2 separate regions of the Homo sapiens genome follow, and region 2 is linked to region 1. The links come from fine-mapping of genetic effects on gene expression. A gene starts in region 1. The other region holds a variant in brackets. All regions are shown on one strand. Distances are between the middles of the regions.

The links.
Region 2: its variant is fine-mapped to the expression of SERINC2 in monocytes after Pam3CSK4 (Quach 2016, PIP 0.95).

The regions. Positions count from the first base shown.
Region 1 is chr1:31,406,799-31,417,116 of GRCh38, forward strand. SERINC2 (serine incorporator 2) reads left to right here and starts at 6,415. Exons shown (of 10, transcript NM_178865.5): 1 at 6,415-6,506. The coding sequence starts at 6,468. RefSeq lists enhancers at 6,163-6,663, 7,934-8,482 and silencers at 6,230-6,299, 6,380-6,439.
Region 2 is chr1:31,456,920-31,467,237 of GRCh38, forward strand. All of the region lies in intron 1 of LOC124903900 (a long non-coding RNA gene), which reads right to left. Among named protein-coding and RNA genes, the nearest start is that of SERINC2, 49 kb to the left of the region's middle. The variant C/T (reference allele first, on the strand shown) is at 4,713.

The DNA of each region.
Region 1 (10,318 bases):
AGGAGGGCACTCTGGGGCCTCCCCTGCTGGGTCTGCTGGGCCTGGAGCCCATTCTGTAGGACCCCTGCAGGCCTTGGCTGGTGGACAAATGACTGAAGGAGGGAGATGCAGGGCTGGCAGGCAGTAGGGGCAGAGATTAGAACCCAGGCTGGATCTCAGGCTGGCTCTGGGCTGACTTGTTGTGTGGCCTGAGTGGCTGCATTCTCTCCAGGCCTCCATTTCTCCATCTGTCCAACGATGGGGTATTGACCACTTGGGCCCACAGGCACTGAGCAGGGGAGGATGAATGGTCCCGACAGGAGATATAAATGTATGGGGAGGAAGAAAGGAGCCGCTGGGCCCAGGAGGGCTGTGGACATCCTGCCTTTGCCCCATCCTCCTCCAGGAAACAGCCTCCCACACTCTCGCTGCTGGCCGGATGACGCCGCTTGGCCTGAGCGTGTCCAAGCCTCAGGTGACAGAGTTCCTGGTCCCTTATGCTGCCCTGGGGCTGGTGGCTGCCCTTCCTCGATCCTAAGACATCCTCCTCACCTCAGAGTGGTGCTGGCCTCAGCGGGGCTTGGAGGAGGCTGAGCTCTCTGTGTGGGCACTCACATGGGTGTCAGCCTGACCCACCCACGTGTGCTCACATCCCTGACACGTGCACATACATGCAAACCCATACACGCACCCTGCATAGTAGGGGCTCACAGACGGAAAGAGCCAGGCCACTTCTTTTTTTTTTTTTTGAGACGGAGTTTCGTTCTTGTTGCCCAGGCTGGAGTGCAATGGTCTGATCTCAGCTCACTGCAACCTCCACCTCCCGGGTTCAAGCGATTCTCCTGCCTCGGCCTCCCAAGTAGCTGGGATTACAGGCATGCGCCACCATACCCGGCTAATTTTGTATTTTTTAGTAGAGGTGGGGTTTCTCCATGTTGGTCAGGCTGGTCTCAAACTCCCGACCTCAGGTGATCCGCCCGCCTTGGCCTCCCAAAGTGTTGGGATTACAGGCGCGAGCCACCGCGCCCGGCTGAGCCAGACCACTTCTGTCTTTTAAGGCTCCTGCTAATTTAAAAATGAAGAAAGTCCTAAATAGGATGTTCACAACTGTGGTATGTTTTTATTTAACAAATTAATGTTTTTTAACACACACATGCACCCACACACATCCAATGCAGTGCAACTGAGAGACTCACAAGATCGTCACAAGAATTATAAAAAATGTGATTTCACATTGCTGTGTGGTCCAGTGATGGGATGTAAGTTTCAAATGGCATGAAGAGCATTCTGTTCTTCCCATCTCATCCATAATTCTCTGGGGCTAGACATCCAGCCCACTTTGTGTACTCGTTGTATTATGAAAAGTATCAAGCATCCAGAAGGGTTGAAAGAATGGTACAGTGAGCACCCACATACTCAGCACCTGGGGACTACAATGAACATTTTGCAGTATCTGCTTTATCACATATCCATTCCTCTGTCCAACCCTCTGTCCATCTCTCTGCACAGACAGCCCTCTGCCTATCCATCTACCTAGCCATCCATCCCTCCCTCCCTCCCTTCATTCCATCTCATTTTTGGATGCATTTTTGAGACTTCTGAATGTGAGGCCTGGGCCAAATGGCACTCTCTTCTCTCCTTTGCAGTAACAGGCCCTGCCACACACACAAGCATACCCCCACCTCTACATGTAAACCCCACCTGCGTACACACCATATATGACTTACCCATGTCCCCACATTTATACATGCACATTCCATGCACATATTCACATAACCACACACGCTCATCTGTGCACATATACCTAAACACCCCCCCCTCCCCAACACACACAAACTGCCCACATATACACTCACAGAAGACCCTGGACATCTGTAAGGAAAGCATCTGGAGACCTTTGGGAATCCTCAGACCTGTGACTGTCGTGGAGCCGGTGCCAGGTCCTGGCTGTCTCCTCCATACATTTCTGGCAAGTGCCAGAGGCTCCCTTGAGCTACCTACCTCAGATGTCCTACCTTTTCCACTCTTACCCATCTTCTCTCTCAACCCCTAGTCACTTCCTACAAAGGAAACGGATTCCTTCCAGAGTGTTACTGTTATGGGAAGCAAATCCCACAGACCATCCACTCCATGCAGGCTGGGACTGTGTCTGCCCTATCCACACTGCATTCCCAGCTCCTGGCCCCCTGTGGCTAAGTGTTGATTGGAAAAAAGTCACCAGAGCAGCACAGAGGCACATACACTGGGCAGCCACAGGGGTACCTCCACCCCACACAGTTACGTCCATGCACACAGAACACCCTGTGTGTGTGTGCATGCTCAAGCTTGCATCACTGTGTGCCTGCACACATATGAACACGCATCGTGTCTGCCTGTCTCCATACTTTCCAGATAGAGTCCCTTCCAGGACCTGGGTCCTTTCACAAAATCACCTAATACCACTGTGGGCTCATCTGCTGACATGTGAGATCCAGATGTGGCCCCATGACTGCTCAGGGCTCCTGGCTTGGCCCTGAACATCTGGGCGCAGGGGTTTAGAGCACCAGCTTTGGAATTGCATTCTCCTGAGAAAACCTGGGTTCCACCCTGGCTCTGCACATGATCACTGTGCATGTTCCCCGTATGATTTATGTACAAGTTACCTAACTTCTTGGAGCATCAATTTCCTTATTTGCTAAATGGGGGCAATAGTTCCTACCTTAAATTCATCTTAAAGGAGATAATCTCAGCAGAGTGCCTGGCATGTTGTAAGCTCTTAAAAATGCTTGCTATGAATATGATTATTGTTACTTTAGCCTTTGCTCTGAAATCCCATGCACGCTTTGTGAGGAAGGACAGCCTTGGTTGGGGGGTGTTTATGGGGAGAGCAGAGTGGATGGTGCGTATGTGAATACCTCTCCCCAGATGCTCCCCCAATCCCAAGCTCTCATTATCTTATATGCATATTCATAAGGGATGGCCCTGCTCTGTAAATGGGTCAGAAGCAGGAAATAGAGGCCAGTACAGACAGCGAAGCCCAAGGGATAGGAGGGCTCAAAGCCGGCACACATCTGAGTCCTCATGGACGGGAGGATGGTAAGAGGGGATGGGGAGAGAATGGATTGGGGGCACTGAGGCGGGGGCAGGAGTTCGTTCCTATGTTGCAGATTTGAAAACTCAGGCCCAGTGAGATCAGATTAGAGAACCTTGGGGTGGGTGGTCCAAGAAGTCAGAGTCTGCTTCCTTTGGGAACTGGAGTTGAGCATCTGTCTGGGCTGGGTGATGGGCACAGGGCAATGGACCAAATGACCCCTACATGTTTATTTCAAGGGACATGGTTTACATAGCATTGGGTGGAGAAGCTGAATCCTGAATTCCAACCCTCCAGTGAGGCTCAGAGTGGTTGGGTGACTTGCCAGTATCACATAGCTGCTGACTGTGACTGTGCTTTTGGGGGTGCAAGAGACAGAGCTACTCTGGCCCCATGCAGGAGGTTCAAATCTGGGAGTAAAGGCTGATGGGCTGGCCAGGACACCAAGAAATGAAGCTCTTTATCCATGTCCTCACTTCATCTCCTCAGTAGTCCCCTCAGATAGCTGGGGTAAAAAAACTTATCTTTATTTTACAGATGAGAAGCATGAGGCTGAGAGAGGAGGAGTCACCCGGACCCAGCCACACAGTGAGTTATGCCTTCCATGCTGGGCGTGTGAGAGCCCAGCCGGCCTTGGTCTTGGGCAGGCAGGAGGCCAGGACAGTGGCAGCATATTACCTTGCTCTGGAAAATTTTAGCCTGAAGTCAGAGTGGCTATCCCTTTACACATACAGTCATCTTAATCCCTCGTTCCTTGCAGATAACTGCTTATTTCTGAGAGTGTCTTTGCAGATGCTCACACATGCTCTGTGAGGTTAAACAGAATAACCCTACCTATTTCCGGGAAGGGGATGGACGGACACCCCTTGTGGGGTGAAGTGGCCCCCCAAGGATGGCATGGGGCATGGTCATCTGTGGCAGAACAAGAATCCCAGGGGTTGATCCTCTTGGTCTTGGGTGCTTTCTACTGTTCTAGGTCATGGATAGGGAGGGGTTGGGGGTGAAAAATTCAGCTCTTAGAGCAGAAGTGTCCAAGGGAGCTGACCCTGGGACGGGAGCATGTGAGGAGGGCTCACTTGAGACTGCTTGGTGGCATTTCAGTCTAAAGGATTTCCGTGCAGAAGATGACTGTGTAGGGTATGTTTTTGGATCAGACTGTCAGTCACAGAAGAAGGAGGAAAGTGGACTTATGGTAAAAGGTCAGACATTCATCCAGTAAGCATTCACTGCTTGACTGTGTGCCAGGCCCTGTACTGTGCTCTGGGTAGGAGAGGGGGTGGCCAGAGAGCAGACCGTTCTTGGGTGGCTCACAGTCCCCTAAAGGCCTCGGGTTAGGGAAGGACTGAAATATTGCTGGACAGAAAAATAGGAAGACTAGATATTGTCACCTCTACTTTTTCAAGGGAAGCAGTAGGACATCAGGGTGAAAGCCAGGCCAGGTTGCCTTTCAGCTCTGTTTCTTCTGAGCTGTGTGGCCTTCAGCAATAGTAACAACAACCACAGTGATCACAGTCAACGTTTATTCGACGCTTGATTTACATTTCGCGTGTCACTACTTCTTTGTTTCTCGGTTTCCTCATCTGTAAACGAGTGGGTGGGGAATTAATCGACTTCTCAGGGCTGTTGTGGGGCTCAAATGGTACCACGGGGGAAAGTTGGGCATGTGCTCGGGTTGTTTGTGAGGCCATAAGGGAGGCCCATATTGTTTGGAGGCTTGGGGGAATCAGGAGGATGTTCATTCCTAATGGAACCAGGTAGTGGGTTGGGGGTGAGGGTGGTGGCTCTCTTCACTGAGAGGTATGGCATGTGAGCAAGCTTCAAAGGGGAGAAAGAGGGATAAGGAGAAGGACCTTTAAGAGGAGGGCATCTGCCAGGTGCAGTGCCTCACATCTGTAATACCAGCACTTTGGGAGGCCAAGGCAGGAGGATTGCTTAAGCCCAGGAGTTCGAGACTAGCCTGGACAACATAAGGAGACCTCATCTCTACACAAAATTTTTAAAAAATTAGCTGGGTGTGGTAGTACACACTGGTGGTCACAGCTACTTGGGAGGCTGAGGTGGGAGGATCACTTGGGTCCAGGAGGTTGAAGCTGCAGTGAGCCATGATTGGGCCACTGTGTTCCAGCCTGGGTGACAGAGTGAGACCCTGTCTCAAAAAAAAAAAAAAAAAAAAAAAAAAAGAGGAGGGCATTGTGTGGGCAAAAGTGCGGAGGAGGAAAAGTATAGGGTGTGTTTGTGGAACAGTCCTGGTGCAATTAATGGCTAAGCCTGGCGCCCAGTGAATCAGCCAAGGATGCAGTCAACCAGCTCTTTGGCCCTGGGGCCAGCTTCGAGGCACAGAGACTTCTTTCCCTAACATTATCTTGTCCAGAGGTGGCTGAGGACAGGGCTAAGGGTGAAGGGAGACTAATTACAGAGCCCTACTTCTGGGTCTCTCACACCTACCCCTGGAAAGCCATCTGTCAGGAATGTGGCCGCCCCTCCCCACCTTCTGACCTCCTTAGCTAGGGACCAGTTTGGGCATCCCTAGGGAGTGATAAGCCACCAAGCAGGGGTGGCTGTAGGGAGTGTGTAGCTCCCAGCAGGCTGTTGGGAGTCAGTGGAGTTTGAAGAACAGATGGAGAGAAGGGAGGATGGGTTTAGAGTGAGAGGCTGGGGTCTTAGAAGAAGCAGTAGGTGGGCATGGTGGCATGCACCTGTAGTCCCAGCTACTCAGGAGCCTGAAGCAGGAGGATCACTTGAGCCCAGGAGGTCGAGGCTGCAGTGAGCTATGTTTGCACCACTGCACTCCAGCCTGGGTGACAGAGCAAGACCCTGTCTCTTAAAAAGGAAGAAGAAAACAGTGACGATGGGGGCTTACATTTGTCAAGCACCTACCATGTGTTGTAACCACCCTGTGAGGTATGTATCCTCACTTTACAGACCGGGAAACTGAGGCTCATAGAGGTGCAGTGACTTGCCGAAGTTTCTTTATCCAGTCATTCAGCATTCAACCTCAGCATCTACGTATTGAGCAGAGGCCCTGCGCCAAGCACTGAGGAGTCAGCGGTGACCACCTCTTGGCTTCTGTTCCCAAGGGTGACAGTGTCCTGGGGTCACACGGGCTCAAACCGAGGTCGATTTCCGAACGCTCACTTTGGAGCAGGATGCGAGCCCGGGCCACGATTGGGTCAGGTTGCGCCGCTCGCGTGGCCGCGGGAATCCCCGACCGGCCCCTTCCCTAGGGTCCCTCCTGGCGCACCTGCCCCAGGTGAGTCTGGGGAGGCCCCGAGCGCCGCCGGAAAGCGTCGAGCGGCTTCGGTAGGTGGGGCGGGGCCGGGGCGGGGCCGGGGCCGGGGAGGGGCCAGGCCCGGCACCCGGATCCCGAGGTCCGCGCCCCGCGCCCGGCGCCGGGCGCCCGAAGCCGGGAGCCGCCGCCATGGGGGCCTGCCTGGGAGCCTGCTCCCTGCTCAGCTGCGTGAGTCCCGACCCCGGCGCCCGCCCGCGCGCGCCGCCCGTTCCTGCTGCGGGCCCTCACTTTCTTCTGTTCTGCTCCGAGTAGTTTCTTCTTTTTCCTTCCTGCAAACTTGTCTTTCTGGGCCGGTGCCCCGCCTGCTCGCCCTCCTGGACCTTCACTCGGCACCCGGATCCCGCTGCCCCCGTCCCCCTGCTCAGTCCTGGCCGGCAGGCGCCGGGCAGCTGCGGTCCCGGCTCGGGTTTCCGCGGGCAGGAGGGGAGTGCCCTCGGCGGGCGCCCTCCTGGGACCTGGAGAGACTAAGCCTGGAGCCCGGGGTCGGGGCAGCTCTGTGGGCCCTCGTCGCCCCACTTGGGGCGGTCCTCGGGGTGGCCTCTGTCCCCGTCCCGGACGCCCTGGTTCTCTGTGTAGGTCGCCCGGGCCCCGTCCCTCCTGGCGAGTGCCCTGCCCTACCCCTCTGGCCGCCTGCCAGTCCGCCTGTTCCTGTCGCTCGGGCTCCGCCTGTCCGTTCGTATTTGTCTGGTTCCTGTCTGTGTCCGTCGTTCGTCCGACTGTCTTTGTCCGTCTGCTGTCTTCTGTCCGTCTGCCCGTCCGCCCGTCCGTCCCTCAGTCTCTCTGCGGTCCCTTTACCGTCCTCAGTCTGGCTCGCGCTGCCTCTCAGGCACTTCCCCAGCTCGCCCCGGATCATCTGGGCCCCAGCGCGGAGACTGGGATGGGAGCGGAGGGAGCCCCGGACTTTCTTAGCTGCCCTCGAGTGAGGCGGGTGCGGGTCGTCACGGACCACCGGGCGGAACTCTGGGTTGGGAGAGCAGGAATCGAGGGAGGTTCGGGTGTGCGCGGGGAGTGCCCGGTCGCGGGTTCGGGACCTGTGGGGAGGCCAACCTCTGTTCTGTAGCTGCAGCCGCAGAGGGGAGGGGCTCCAGCAAGACCCCGGCTGGGAGGCCCGTTCTCCCTTCCCTTTCCCCAGCCCCCCTCTCCTTTCCTCTTCCCCTCATTAAATCTGAGGTTCATTCAGGCAGCCCCCTCCCCCTCTGGCCCCACACAAAGAGGCCCTGAGAGGGAGAAGGGGCTGCAGCGGCTGCTGAATCTCGGGACTCGCTTTCCTTTGTCCCTGACGGGTTGTGTGTGTGTGTGTGTGTGTGTGTGTGTGTGTGAGAGAGAGAGAGAGAGAGAGGAGGGGGTGTAGGGGAGAGCTGAGGGTCTAGAGATTTACTTTACAGCCTTTTTCTGAGAATGAGATCAGCATAGACAGCACAGAGAGGCAAGAGAGCCTCTCGCCTCATTAGGCCTCCATTTTTCGTGTGTGTGTGTGCGTGTGCATGTGCGTGTGCAGGAGGAGGAATCAAGCTGGTGCCTGAAATCCCTCCCAGCCCAAAGAATTCAAGGTTTGGGCCAGGTCTCTGCCAACAAGGGTTTGCTTCCTGGTGAGGGAGGCAGAGCTTCCACAGTGGACCTGATTTCCATCGGTTGCACCTGGTGAGGCACAGGCCCTGCTGGGCTGGCCTGGGGGTGGAGATGTTGAGGGGCAGCCTGCCAGCCCTGTGTGCCTTGGTCACCCCATCTGGCAGTTGACAGTAACAGGGCCTTTCTCACAATGCTGTTGGGAGATGAGGCACAGTTCCTGGCATATCGTGAGTGCTCCTTGTGGGAATTATTGCTAACATCAAGGAAAGGTGGGTGGAGAATTCCATTTGGAGACAATGCAAAGCCAAGTGCTGGTCTCTGAGTTACAGCATTCTACAATGCTGAGAGCAGATAGGACTGCTCAAACCATCTGTTTACAGATGAGAAGACTGCCACCCGCCCGGAGAAGATAGCTGACTTTCCTAAGGTTGCACAGGGAAAGGATGAAGAACTGCATAGTTAGGATCAACATCTGATTCCTGGTCCAGGCTTCTGCCCACACCTTCCCTCCCTTCCCCACATCCTGGCTGCCTGAGGCACAGGGCTGGTCCAGGGAAGAATTGGGAGATAACTTAGTGAGTAATATCAGCAAGGGACCCGGCCCTCCCTTCAGTGCCATCCCCTTGGGGTTCTGGCCTCCGACATTTACTGAGGTTCTGGCCTCTGACATTTACTGAGCCAGGTACTGTTCCGAGCCCCTCACCATGCCATCTCATTGGCTCTCCCCACCTCCTCTACCCTATGACATCGTTAGCCCATTTTACAGATAACTATCCCAACACTCGCAGCGTGGAGCTGTCCAGGAGTGGCCTAGGCCCCATACAGTAGTGAGCAGTATGTGTATGTGTGTGTATATATATATCTCCTTCCATTTAATCCTCACAAAGACCCCACTGGGGCAGTTAATATTGTTCCCATTTCACAGATGAGGAAACTGGCTCAGAGAGTGAAGGTGACTTCTCCACAGCCACACAACATTAAGTGGTGTAGTTGGGCACTACTGGACACCAGTACCATCCTGTTGCAGTGAAGAGTTGCTGCACAGGAGTGAAGTTCTATGTGGGGTTTCTGGGCAACTTCAGGAGGGATTTTTTTGCATGCATGGGTCAGTGGGGAAGATTTTTGTATCCTCCCAGGTGTGACTCATCTGCTGATTGTGCTTCTCAGCATTGGAACTGGGCTGAAGGTGAACTGGGCTGAAGGTGGGTCCTGCTTTGGATGGGGAGGTAAGATGGGTCCACAGGGGATGGGGCCACCAGGCAAGCCGCCGGCACATGATGACTTGGCTGTCTGCAAAGATTTCAGGAGGGTCTTGCACATCCTAGGGAGTGTGAAAGGCCTTTGGGTCAGACCACTGGACTCGGATCCTAGCTTTGCCTCTTCGCATCTCTGTGACTGTGGGCAGTCACTTTGCCCATCCCCTTGTCTGTAAAGTGGAGAAAACAATGGTGTCTGCCCCTTAGCCTGTTGTGAGGATTAAATGGGACTGAGGTTAGCACAGCTGCATATTTAGCACCAAGCTGGTGTGCAGTGGCCGGTCCATAAACACCCCACAGTAGTACATGACTCAAGACTACATGCAAGGAAGTGCTGAAGCCAGTGAGACCCAGGGCTGCCTAACTATAGAGCCTGGGCTCGGAGCCCCTGTACTCTCCTACCCCAGGAGATCATTTTACAGATGAGGAAACTGAGTCCCATGGAGGGGAGGAGAGACTTGCCTGAGGTCAGATTACAAGCTGTGGCAGAGCCAGCATTAGGACCTGCATTCTTGGCACTGCATGGGGGAAGTAAGTGCACCTTGGGACATTTCCGGCTGACCTCTTCTCTGCTGTGTTTTGACTAGCCCTGGGGCGGCTCAGCCAGTTACGGAGTTGTTCATGAAGGCGGCAAGGTGCATGCTTGCCTGGGCCAGTTTTGCATTTTTTAAACTGTGACGAAATACATGTTAAAAAATTTACTCTTTTAACCTTTTATTTTAGTCTTCAAGGAGTTTGTATGTTATTTCATTTTATTTTATTTTACTTTATTTTTTTGAGATGAAGTCTTGCTCTGTTGTCCAGACTGGAGTGCAGTGGCACCATTCTGGCTCACTGCAACCTCTGCCTCCAGGTTCAAGTGATTCTCCTGCCTCAGCCTCCCGAGTAGCTGGGATTACAGGCGTGCGCCACCATGCCTGGCTAATTTTTGTGTTTTTAATAGAGACGGGGTTTCACCATGTTGGCCAGGCTGGTCTCGAACTCCTGATCTCAAGTTATCCACTGGCCTCGGCCTCCCAAAGTGCTGGGATTACAGGCATGAGCCACCACACCCAGCCTGTAATTTATTTTAGAAGACATGTATATTAAAATGGAGATCTAATAAATACAACCCTAATAAAAATTAATCCCAAACGAATGGCATTGTCAGAAGGA
Region 2 (10,318 bases), 50 kb after region 1:
ACCTGTTTGGCCGGGGTACACATTTCTATGCACTTATAAACTCTGAGGACTGTGTTACACATGGCTTGGGGCCCCCAGTGGGTCTCTTGATGTAGTTGGGACAAGATTTCCCTCATAAGGGGTTTGGATAACATTTCTCTCTGGTCTAGCAATATCCATTTTCCTTCTGAATTTTCTTTAGCACCATTTTTGTTCGTTTTTAAACCAAAGAAAGCCAAACACCACTTTATATTTGACAATGCTTCCTGTATGATTTTATACCAGATAAGCTAAATTTTACCTTTATATTAGTGTGCTATTAATGTTAAGCTCAATTTTAATAAAATCTTGTAGACATTATTTATCCAATATTAATGTCTGACCATAAGGTAAAATTTTTACTCTTTTTAACCCTTTATGATTTTTGTTAAAGAGCAGTTTAGTGCTTTAAGAAAAACCTGTTGTGCTTTTTTTTAATGTCCAGTTCGCAGAAAAACTGGATGATACCCCCTTAACTTTAGCCAATATGTTTACACACAGAATTTCCTTTACAATTAACGTTTCAAAGCTTGCTTAAACCTTCAAAACACATTTTTTTAACCTTTTAATGTAGGTAAAAATCCACATTATTATACTTTCTTATACTCCTTTTACCAAAAGTATATTTTACTTTCCTTACACACCTTGCATATAAACTGTTTCTTCAATAGTTTTACATTCAGGAGGCCTAATTACTTTTAAATTATACAACATTTCTTGCATAAATTCCCCTTTATAACATTTTTCACAACTTTCACAGATAATCTTCAACATGCCTCAACTTTCTGACTTGTTGCAAACATCCCTTTCTTTAAACAACCAGTTAATTTATTTTAGGACAAGAATTTACCATATAAGATTCTTTTTATATAAATTCTCCTTTTTTAAATGTCAGAGATGATAACTAGTTTTCTCCAAAGCAAACTTCCTTCATGTCGGTGGACTAGGCTGCCTAAGGCCACAAGATTAGAAGTTAGGATAATACATGTTATACTGCTAACTTTTAGCAAATGTGGAAAGTAAAAAGTTCCTCTTCCTTCAAAGTTTCCCTTCTTGTTAAAGAATAAATAATAAATGTTAGAAATAATAGTTTCTTTTAAAGACTAACTTCCTTCAAAGCCTTCTTGCTTTTTGCTAATAACCCTTTATTAAGCCCTATCCTATGTAGATGTTAGATATAAGGAAATAAGTACATCCTATGTCCTTGTACTTTAACCAAGATATTGGCATGTCCCAGTTCACAGCCTATGCCCCTTTCTTATTTGGAAATGTTATTACTTCTCTAAGTCCTTTTGCAAGCAACTTCCTCTTTTCCTTTTGTTCTTCATTGCCTTTACCTATTTAGGAAAGTTTTAAGTTGTTAGCCAATCGGGTTTAGCTTAGACTGTGACTGTTAGCCAATCGGATTTAGCTTAGACTTAGACTCCAAGCAATGGAGATAGGACACAGCAGTAAGGATCCAATGTGTAAGGGATAAATATTCCTGATTTGTTTGTTCAGTGTGCTCTCATGGCAAGATTGCTGATAAGTAGCACCCTTTCTGCAGAAAGTAAAATTGCCTTGCTGAGAAAACTTTTTGTCTGAATGCTAGTTTTTCCTTGTGGCACTGAGGAATAAGCATTTACTTCTAACAGTTCTGGAGGCTCCTCTGGGATTCCCATTCTCCTTTCAGAAGGGGTCTTTGGTCACCCCCTCAGGGAGGCATACCCCACTGCCTTGTTGTGGTGGCCTTAAGGGCTGGAGATCAAAACCCATCCTTTGCAATGAATAAACCCGGGCTCTTAGCAACACGGGGAAAGAAGGGCTTGCAACACTGCTGTGACCAGGTAATTCTGTGCACATACCAAGGTAAGAAACATCACAAGGGGGTGACAAAGTATTTCCTTGATGGTCAAAATTCTGGAGGTTGAGTGTGAGTGTGCATGCGTGAGTATGGTGTGAGTGGGTCCTCTCTGCAAATTCTGTAATCATTTCATATGGCTTAGAGGTAAGAGAGGGCAAAACAAAAGGAAAGGAGTGAAAGAGACCTCCAGAAGGTGAGGGGGAATAGTTAGAATCCTCCCTGGGAAAAGAAGGGTGAAAAACCTCAAGCACGTGAGGTTGTTTGTTTGTTTGTTTGTTTGTTATTTTGTTGCTGTTGTTGTTGTTTTTTGAGATGGAGTCTTGTTCTGTCACCCAGGCTAGAGTGCAGTGGTGCGATCTCCACTCACTGCAAGCTCTGCCTCCCGGGTTCATGCCATTCTCCTGCCTCAGCCTCCCAAGTAGCTGGGATTACAGGTGCCCGCCACCATTCCTGGCTAATTTTTTGTATTTTTAGTAGAGATGGGGTTTCACCATGTTAGCCAGGATGGTCTCGATCTCCGGACCTCGTGGTCCACCCGACTTGGTCTCCCAAAGTGCTGGGATTACAGGTGTGAGCCACTGCGCCCGGCCATACGTGAGGTTGTTTTAAGCAAGCCTCTGGAAAACGGGATAAGCAAGAAAACTCTGGGTCGAGAGGTTGAGTCTAACTGGTACTCAGTATAGGGAATATTTCTAGTAAAACAGGGAAGGGAAAGAATGCAGATGGTCAAATCCCCCCCACCGATAGTCCTTTAGGGCTTATGTTAAAGTATTGGAAAGACAATGAGAGGACTAAACTCAAGGGAAAGCAGCAAATGATAAAGTATTGCTGCTTTATTTGGACTAAAGAGCCAATCCTCAAGCCCACAGTTTTCTGGCCAAAGTTTGGGTTGGATGGGGACTGGGTTTGTCAACTCCTAATAATGTATGTTAATGACAAGAGTCCTCTCTCACAAGAAGAAATAGACTATGCTCTGTGCTGGCGGCAGGGGCCGTTCTTCTCTACCCGCTAAGAATAGATGGGAAGGAACTAGAAGGTAAAAAGGACTCAGAGGCTGTCTCATCTGAGAACAAAGTTTCTACTTCTAAGACATCCACGAGTAAGTGGGACCCTCTAGACCACCATCCCCCACTTCTCAAAAACCCACCACTCCCTCCTCAAGCAATTGCCGCCGCCCCAAACCCCATCCCAGACCCAGTTCCAGACTCTCCTCTGGATCCTCATACTCAGGTTATTCCTCCCCCATACAACCCGGACTCCTGGAAGTTATTGTCCCAGGGACCCAAGTTTTGTCAGTCTGAATATCCTTCTTTAAAGAAAGGACTTCAACGGGAAATACAACAATGTAGAAAGGATATTCAGAGTCTTCCTTTCCCCCTCCCCACTTCTAAGGATTCATCTTCAAAGTTCTTTCTTTTAAGGGAGGTACCACAAGGGGGGGCAATTTGCCTTGTAAATGCTCCCTTAACTGGTTCCGAAGTCCGAAGTCTTAAAAAAAAAGAACTCAAGCCATTATTAGATGATCCTTATGGAGTGGCAGATCAAATTGATCAGTTTTTAGGCCCGCAGTTATATACCTGGGCTGAATTAATGTCCATCCTAGGTATCCTCTTTTCAGGGGAAGAGCAGAACATGATCCGCAGAGCTGCTGTGGTGGTCTGGGAGTGTGACCATCCTCTGGGCCAAAATGTTCTGGCAGCAGACCAAAATTTCCAGCCAAGACCTGGAGTGGGATAACAATATTGCAGCCCACAGGGATAACATGAGAGATTTAAGGGAAATGATAGTTAGAGGAATTTGGGAATCAGTGTCCCGACCTCAAAATCTCTCTAAGGATTTTGATATACAGCAAGAAAAAGATGAAGGGCCTATGAAGTTTCTAGACAGAGTGAGGGAACAGATGAGAAAATATGCTGGTTTAGACCCAGAAAGCCCCTTTGGGCTAGGATTGTTAAAGTTGCACTTTATTATTAACAGTTGGCCAGATATTGCAAGAAAATTGCAAAAACTGGAAAATTGGAAGAATCGGTCAATAGAAGAGCTTTTGAGAGAAGCCCAAAAAGTATATGTAAGTAGAGATGAAGAAAGGCAGAGACAGAAAGCAAAAATCTTTTGACAGAGTTCACCAGGACAAATGATACCAGGGGCTAAGTTTAGACCCACACCTGCAAAGTTTTCTAGAGAAGGTGAAAGAAGAAAGTCAGGGAACTCAGGAATGCAAAGAGAAAGAAGGCAAGATCAGTACGTTAAGGGAGAAGGTCAAAGTAAGTGCTGTAAGGGCTGTGGATGTGAAGGTAAGGAGGAAAGACAAAGGGGCCCTGGGCTTGGGAGAGAGGAAGGACAAGACAGATGTTACAAATGTGGAAGACCAGACCATTTTAATAGGTAATGTCCGGAATTAGAAAAAGTAGAAGAAGCTCTTCCACTCATGACTACCTTTGAAGAGGAATAGGGGGGTCAGGGGCTCTGTCTTTTCTATTTTGAGTCCCACCAGGAACCCTTGATACATTTAGAGGTGAGACCCAAACATGAATTAATCACCTTTTTAATTGACTCAGGAGCTGCTTGCTTGTCTGTTTGTTTTCCCCCAGCTGATTTAACTTGTTCTACAGAGGAATTGCTAGTTTCTGGGGTAAAAGGAGAAGAATTTAAGGAGAAAGTTTTAGAAAATACAGAAGCAAAATACCAAGATCAGTCAACTTGTATTCAACTTTTGTTAATTCCTGAAGCAGGAACCAATCTGTTAGGGAGAGATTCAATGTTAAAACTAGGTATAGGTCTGCAAGTTGGCCCAAAGGGTGTTCTAACTTCCTTAAATTTGCTTACCACAGCAGATGAGAAGTCCATTCAT[C/T]TCGATGTCTGGCCAAGGGAAGGAAACTGAGGAAAGCTACGAATTCCTCCAATACATATCAGGTTAAGGACTCCAGGGGAGGTAGTGAGAAGAAAGCAATACCCTATCCCTTTAGAAGAAGGGTAGGGTTAAAGCCTGTAATTGAGAGTCTTATTAAAGATGGACTACTTGAACCTTGTATGTCCTCATACAACACTCCAATTTTACCAGTCAAAAAATCAGATGGGTCATACCAACTAGTGCAGGACCTTACAGCTATCAATCAAATAGTCCAGACCACTCATTCTGTTGTACCCAACCCTTACACCATTCTTAGTAAAATTTCACACAGTCATCAGTGGTTCACAGTAATAGACTTAAAGGATGCATTCTGGGCAGGTCCCTTGGCTGAAGACAGCCAGGATATATTTACTTTTGAATGGGAAGGTCCCCATTCAAGATGGAAACAACAGTATAGATGGACAGTTTTACCCCAAGGATTTACAGATTCACTCAATCTTTTTGGTCAAATCTTAGAGCAAGTATTAGAAAAAGTTGTTGTCCCAAAGCAGCTACGTTTGCTCCAATATGTGGATGATATTCTTATATCTGGAGAAGACATAGAGAAGGTAGCTGGGTTTTCTACACACGTTCTTAACCACTTACAGTTTGAAGGGTATGGGTCTCAAAGAGAAAGCTTCAATATGTAGAACCTGAAGTTAAATACTTAGGCCATTTAATAAATGCAGACAAAGGAAGAATAGGACCCAAATGGGTCAAAGGAATTGTGTCTTTGCCCTTGCCTCAAACCAAGCAAGAACTCAGGAAATTTTTAGGGTTAGTTGGATACTGCCATTTATGGATTGACTCATATGCATTAAAAAGTAAACTTCCATATGAGAAGCTAACTAAAGGAGAACCTGATCTCTTCATATGGACTTCTGAAGAGGTTGATCAGGTTGGGGAGTAAAAGGAAAGACTCATAACTGCTCCTGTCCTGGCCCTACCCTCTCTAGAAAAACCATTTCATCTTTTTGTTAACGTAGATAATGGAGTGGCTCTAGGAGTGCTTACCCAAGAACATGGGGGCTGCCGACAGCCAGTGGCCTTCCTGTCAAAAGTTCTAGATCCAGTCGCCTGCAGATGGCCTCAGCGTATTCAATCCATTGTGGCCACGGTGATATTGGTTGAAGAAAGCAGGAAATTAACTTTTGGAGGATATCTGACAGTGAGTACACCTCAACAAGTCAAGCTATCCTAAGCCAAAAGGCAGGAAGATGGCTCACTGACTCCAGAATTTTAAAATATGAAGCTATCCTATTAGAAAAAGATGATTTAACCTTAACTACAGACAATTCACTTAACCCAGTGGGTTTCTTGACAGGGAACCCACTGCTAAAAAGGGAACACCTATGTCTAGATTTAATTGACTACCATACGAAAGTCAGCCCAGATTTAGTAGAAACCCCCTTTAAGACAGGGCAGCTTTATTTACAGATGGTTCCTCCCAGGTAATTGAGGGAAAACGACATAATGGGTATGCAGTAATCGATGGGGAAACTCTCAAAGAAGTTGAATCAGGAAGATAACCCAATAGTTGGTCTCCCCAAGCCTGTGAGCTATTTGCACTTAGCCAGGCCCTAAAATACTTATAGAACCAGGTAGGAACCATCTATACTGACTCTAAGTATGCTTTTGGGGTGTCTCACACATTTGGAAAAATTTGGGCCGAACGGGGCCTTATTAATAGTAAAGGTCAAGATCTTGCTTATGAAACATTAATTGTGTCCTGAATAATCTTCAGTTACCAGAGGAAATAGACATTGTCCATGTTCCAGGACACCAACACAACTTTTATTTTGAAAGTTGAGGAAATACTCTTGTGGATCAAAGAGCCAAGCAAGCTGCTGTTTCCTCTGAGACACCATCTTTCACTTAACTCCTTGTCTTCCTTCTCCCACTGTAGTTCCTATTTTCTGTCATACTGAGAAGGAAAAATTAGTAAAAATAGGAGCTCAAAGGAATTCAGAAGGGAAATAGATACTCCCAGACCAGAAAGAAATATTATCTAAGCCTCTTTTGAGGGAGGTTTTATCTTAACTACATCAAAGAACTCACTGGAGCCCCAAGTTATGTGTGATGCAGTTCTCAGGGTTTATGGGTATATTGAGATTTATACTTTAGCAAAACAAGTTAAAGACAGTTGTCTAATTTGTAAGAAAACAAATAAACAAGCCCTAAGAAAATTACCACTTGGAGGAAGAAATCCAGGACTAAGACCATTTCAAAGTGTCCAAGTTGATTACGCTGAAATGCCCCCACCTGGTCAGCTAAAGTATTTATTGGTAATAGTAGATCATTTCACCCATTGGGTAGAGGCTATCCCTTTTTCAAGTGCAACCGCTAGTAATGTAGTTAAAGCAATAATTGAACATATTACACCCAGGTTCGGACTAATAGAAAACATTGATTCAGACAATGGAACCCATTTTACTGCACATATCATTAAAAAGTTGGCTCAAGTACTAGACATAAAGTGGGAATATCACATTCCTTGGCACCCATCCTCCTCAGGGAGAGTAGAAAGGATGAACCAAACCCTTAAAAGCCACCTAACTAAATTAGTCCTAGAGACCCGGTTGCCATAGGCTAAATGCCTTCCTATTGTTTTATTAAGGATTAGAACCTCCCCTTGGAAAGATGTTGGCCTGTCCCCTTATGAAATGTTATATGGGTTGCCTTACTTATATTCCACTGCTCATGCCCCCACATTTGAATCAAAGGATCAGTTTCTCAGAAATTATATACTTGGTCTCTCCTCTACCTTTTTTTCACTTAAAACCAGAGGTCTTCTAGCACAGGCACCACCCCTAGAATTTCCAGTACACCAGCACCAGCCTGGGGACCATCAAAGGACGGAAAGAAGCAAAACTCGAGCCAGCCTGGGAAGGACCCTACCTCGTGCTGCTAACCACCGAGACTGCCATTGGCACAGCAGAAAAAGGATGAACACATCACACCCAAGTCAAGAAAACGTCATCACCTTCGGAATCGTGGGTCATTGTTCCAGGATCAAGCCCTACCAAATTAAAGTTAAGAAAAGCTTAATCTATCTATCTTTTATTTTTCTTTTCTTCCCTTTAACTACTCCCCATCTTATTATTAACGTAACTAGATCTAACTCACCTCAAGTTATTACTTCTGATGCCTGTTTAGTTATACCCTGTGGAGATTTGCATAACCAAAGACAGTTTACTACTTCGGAAAAATATCTCTGTCCCTCTTGGACTTCCTCAGATTGGGAAGACATATTGAGTTCCTGCAAGGATACTAGTAATCCAGAGAATACTAGTTGTATTAATTGGTGGGAATCAGACTCTTGTCCCTCTAAAACAGAATCTCTATGTTCTGCTTGGTCTAATGTCCTATGGAACACTAAAGGTCTAAGATAGACTGCTTCCACGGGTCTTTGTCAGTCCTTAAAACCATATATTCATTTCACCAAAAGAATTACTCCTTCTAGCTGTCAATATAACCAGTGTAATCCTATACAGCTTACTATTACTATTGCAACATCTGAAAACTCTTCCCCTTCATTAAGTCATATTTATGGTATGGGAGCTGACATTTCAGGAAAGATAGTAAGGGAATTTTTGAAATATGCTTTATTGCTTCTTCAACCTCTATCAATCACTCCTCCCAGACACAATGACAAAACCAAAATCTCCGTAGTAAAAGTAGAAAACCTAAGGCAAACCATAGCAATTGAGACAGGGTATCAGGATGTAAATGCCTGGCTAGAATGGATTAAATATTCCATCTGCACTTTAAATAAAAGCGATTGTTACGCTCCTACACATGGTAGGCCAGAGGCCCAGATTGTCCCCTTTCCACTCAGATGGCCCTCTAATCGACAAGACATGGACTGCATGGTAGCTGTTTTTCAAAATCCTACAGCCTGGGATAATGAACTGTGCCAAACTGTCTCTCTGCTATTTCCTGAAGTGCAGCATCCTGCGGGTCAGCCCCCGCAGGCCATCCAGCCTCCATCTTCCAAGAGCAACTTTACCTCATGTCTCCAACGACAAGGGGAAAATTTGGTGTTCCTTGGAGACTTAACAGGATGCAGTGAGGTCAGGCACTGCCAAGAGCTGACCCATCAGTCCGTCCTTATTCATCCCGGAGCAGATGTCTGGTGGTATTGTGGAGGACCTTTACTGGACACTCTGCCAAATAATTGGAGTGGTACTTGTGCTCTAGTTCAATTGGCTGTCCCTTTTACCCTGACATTTCATCAACCAGAAAAAGAAAAAACATGACATCGTAAAACAAGAGAAGCCCCTTACTGGTCTTTCAACCCCCACGTCTATTTAGATGCAATTAGCATTCCACAGGGTGTACCAGATGAATATAAAGCTAGGGATTCCAAATAGCTGCAGGGTTTGAATCTATCCTCCCATGGATAACAGTTAATAAAAACAAAGATTGGAAAAACTATATTTTTTACAATCAACAACGGTTTATTAATTACACTAAAGATGCTGTCAATGGAAGAGTGGAACAGTTAGGGTCCACTAGCCAAATGGCCTGGGAAAACAGAATGGCTTTGGATATGATATTAGTTGAAAAAGGTGGTATTTGTGTTATGATTAAAATCCAATGTTGTACCTTCATCCCAAACAACACTGCTCCCAATGGCAGCATAATGATGGCCCTACAAGGCCTTACTGCTTTACCTGAAGAACTAGCTAAAAATTCTGGAATTAATAACCCTGTTTTAAAATGGCTAGAAGGGTGGTTTGGCCAATGAAAAGAGACTGTAGCCTCAATTCTTACCTCTTTAGCAACTGTAATAAGTATACTCCTTCTTTTTGGGTGTTGTGTTATACCATGCATCCGAGAGTTGGTGCAAAGGTTAATGAAAATGGCTCTTACTAAAACCTCCCTTAACTCTACTCCACCTTATTCAGAGAAGCTTTTTTTTTTTTTTTTAAGAGACTCAGGCAGAACAACTAAGCCAAGACATATTAAGAAAGTTTGAAGAGGAAAAACTATAAAATCAAGAGGGGGAAATTGTGGAAAGTAAAAAGTTCCTCTTCAAAGTTTCCCTTCTTGTTAAATAATAAATAATAAATGTTAGAAATAATAGTTTCTTTTAAAGACTGACTTCCTTCAAAGCCTTCTTGCTTTTTGCTGATAACTCTTTGTTAAGCCCTATCCTATGTGGATGTTAGATATAAGGGAATAAGTACATTCTATGTCCTTGTACTTTAACCAAGATATTTATTCTGGACATGCTCAGGCATGTCCCAGCTCACAGACTATGCCCCTTTCTTATTTGGAAATGTTATTACTTCTCTAAGTCCTTTGCAAGCAACTTCCTCTCTCTCTCTCTCTTTTTTTTTTTTTTTGTTCTCCATTGCCTTTACCAATTTAGGAAAGTTTTAAGTTTTTAGCCAATCAGGTTTAGCTTAGACTGTGAGGTCCAGCTCCAACCAATGGAGATAGGACACAGCAGTAAGGACCCAATAAGGGATAAATATTCCTGCCTTTCTTTATTCAGTGTGCTTTCATGGCGAGATTGCTGATGAGTAGCATCCTTTCTGGAGAAAGTAAAATTGCCTTGC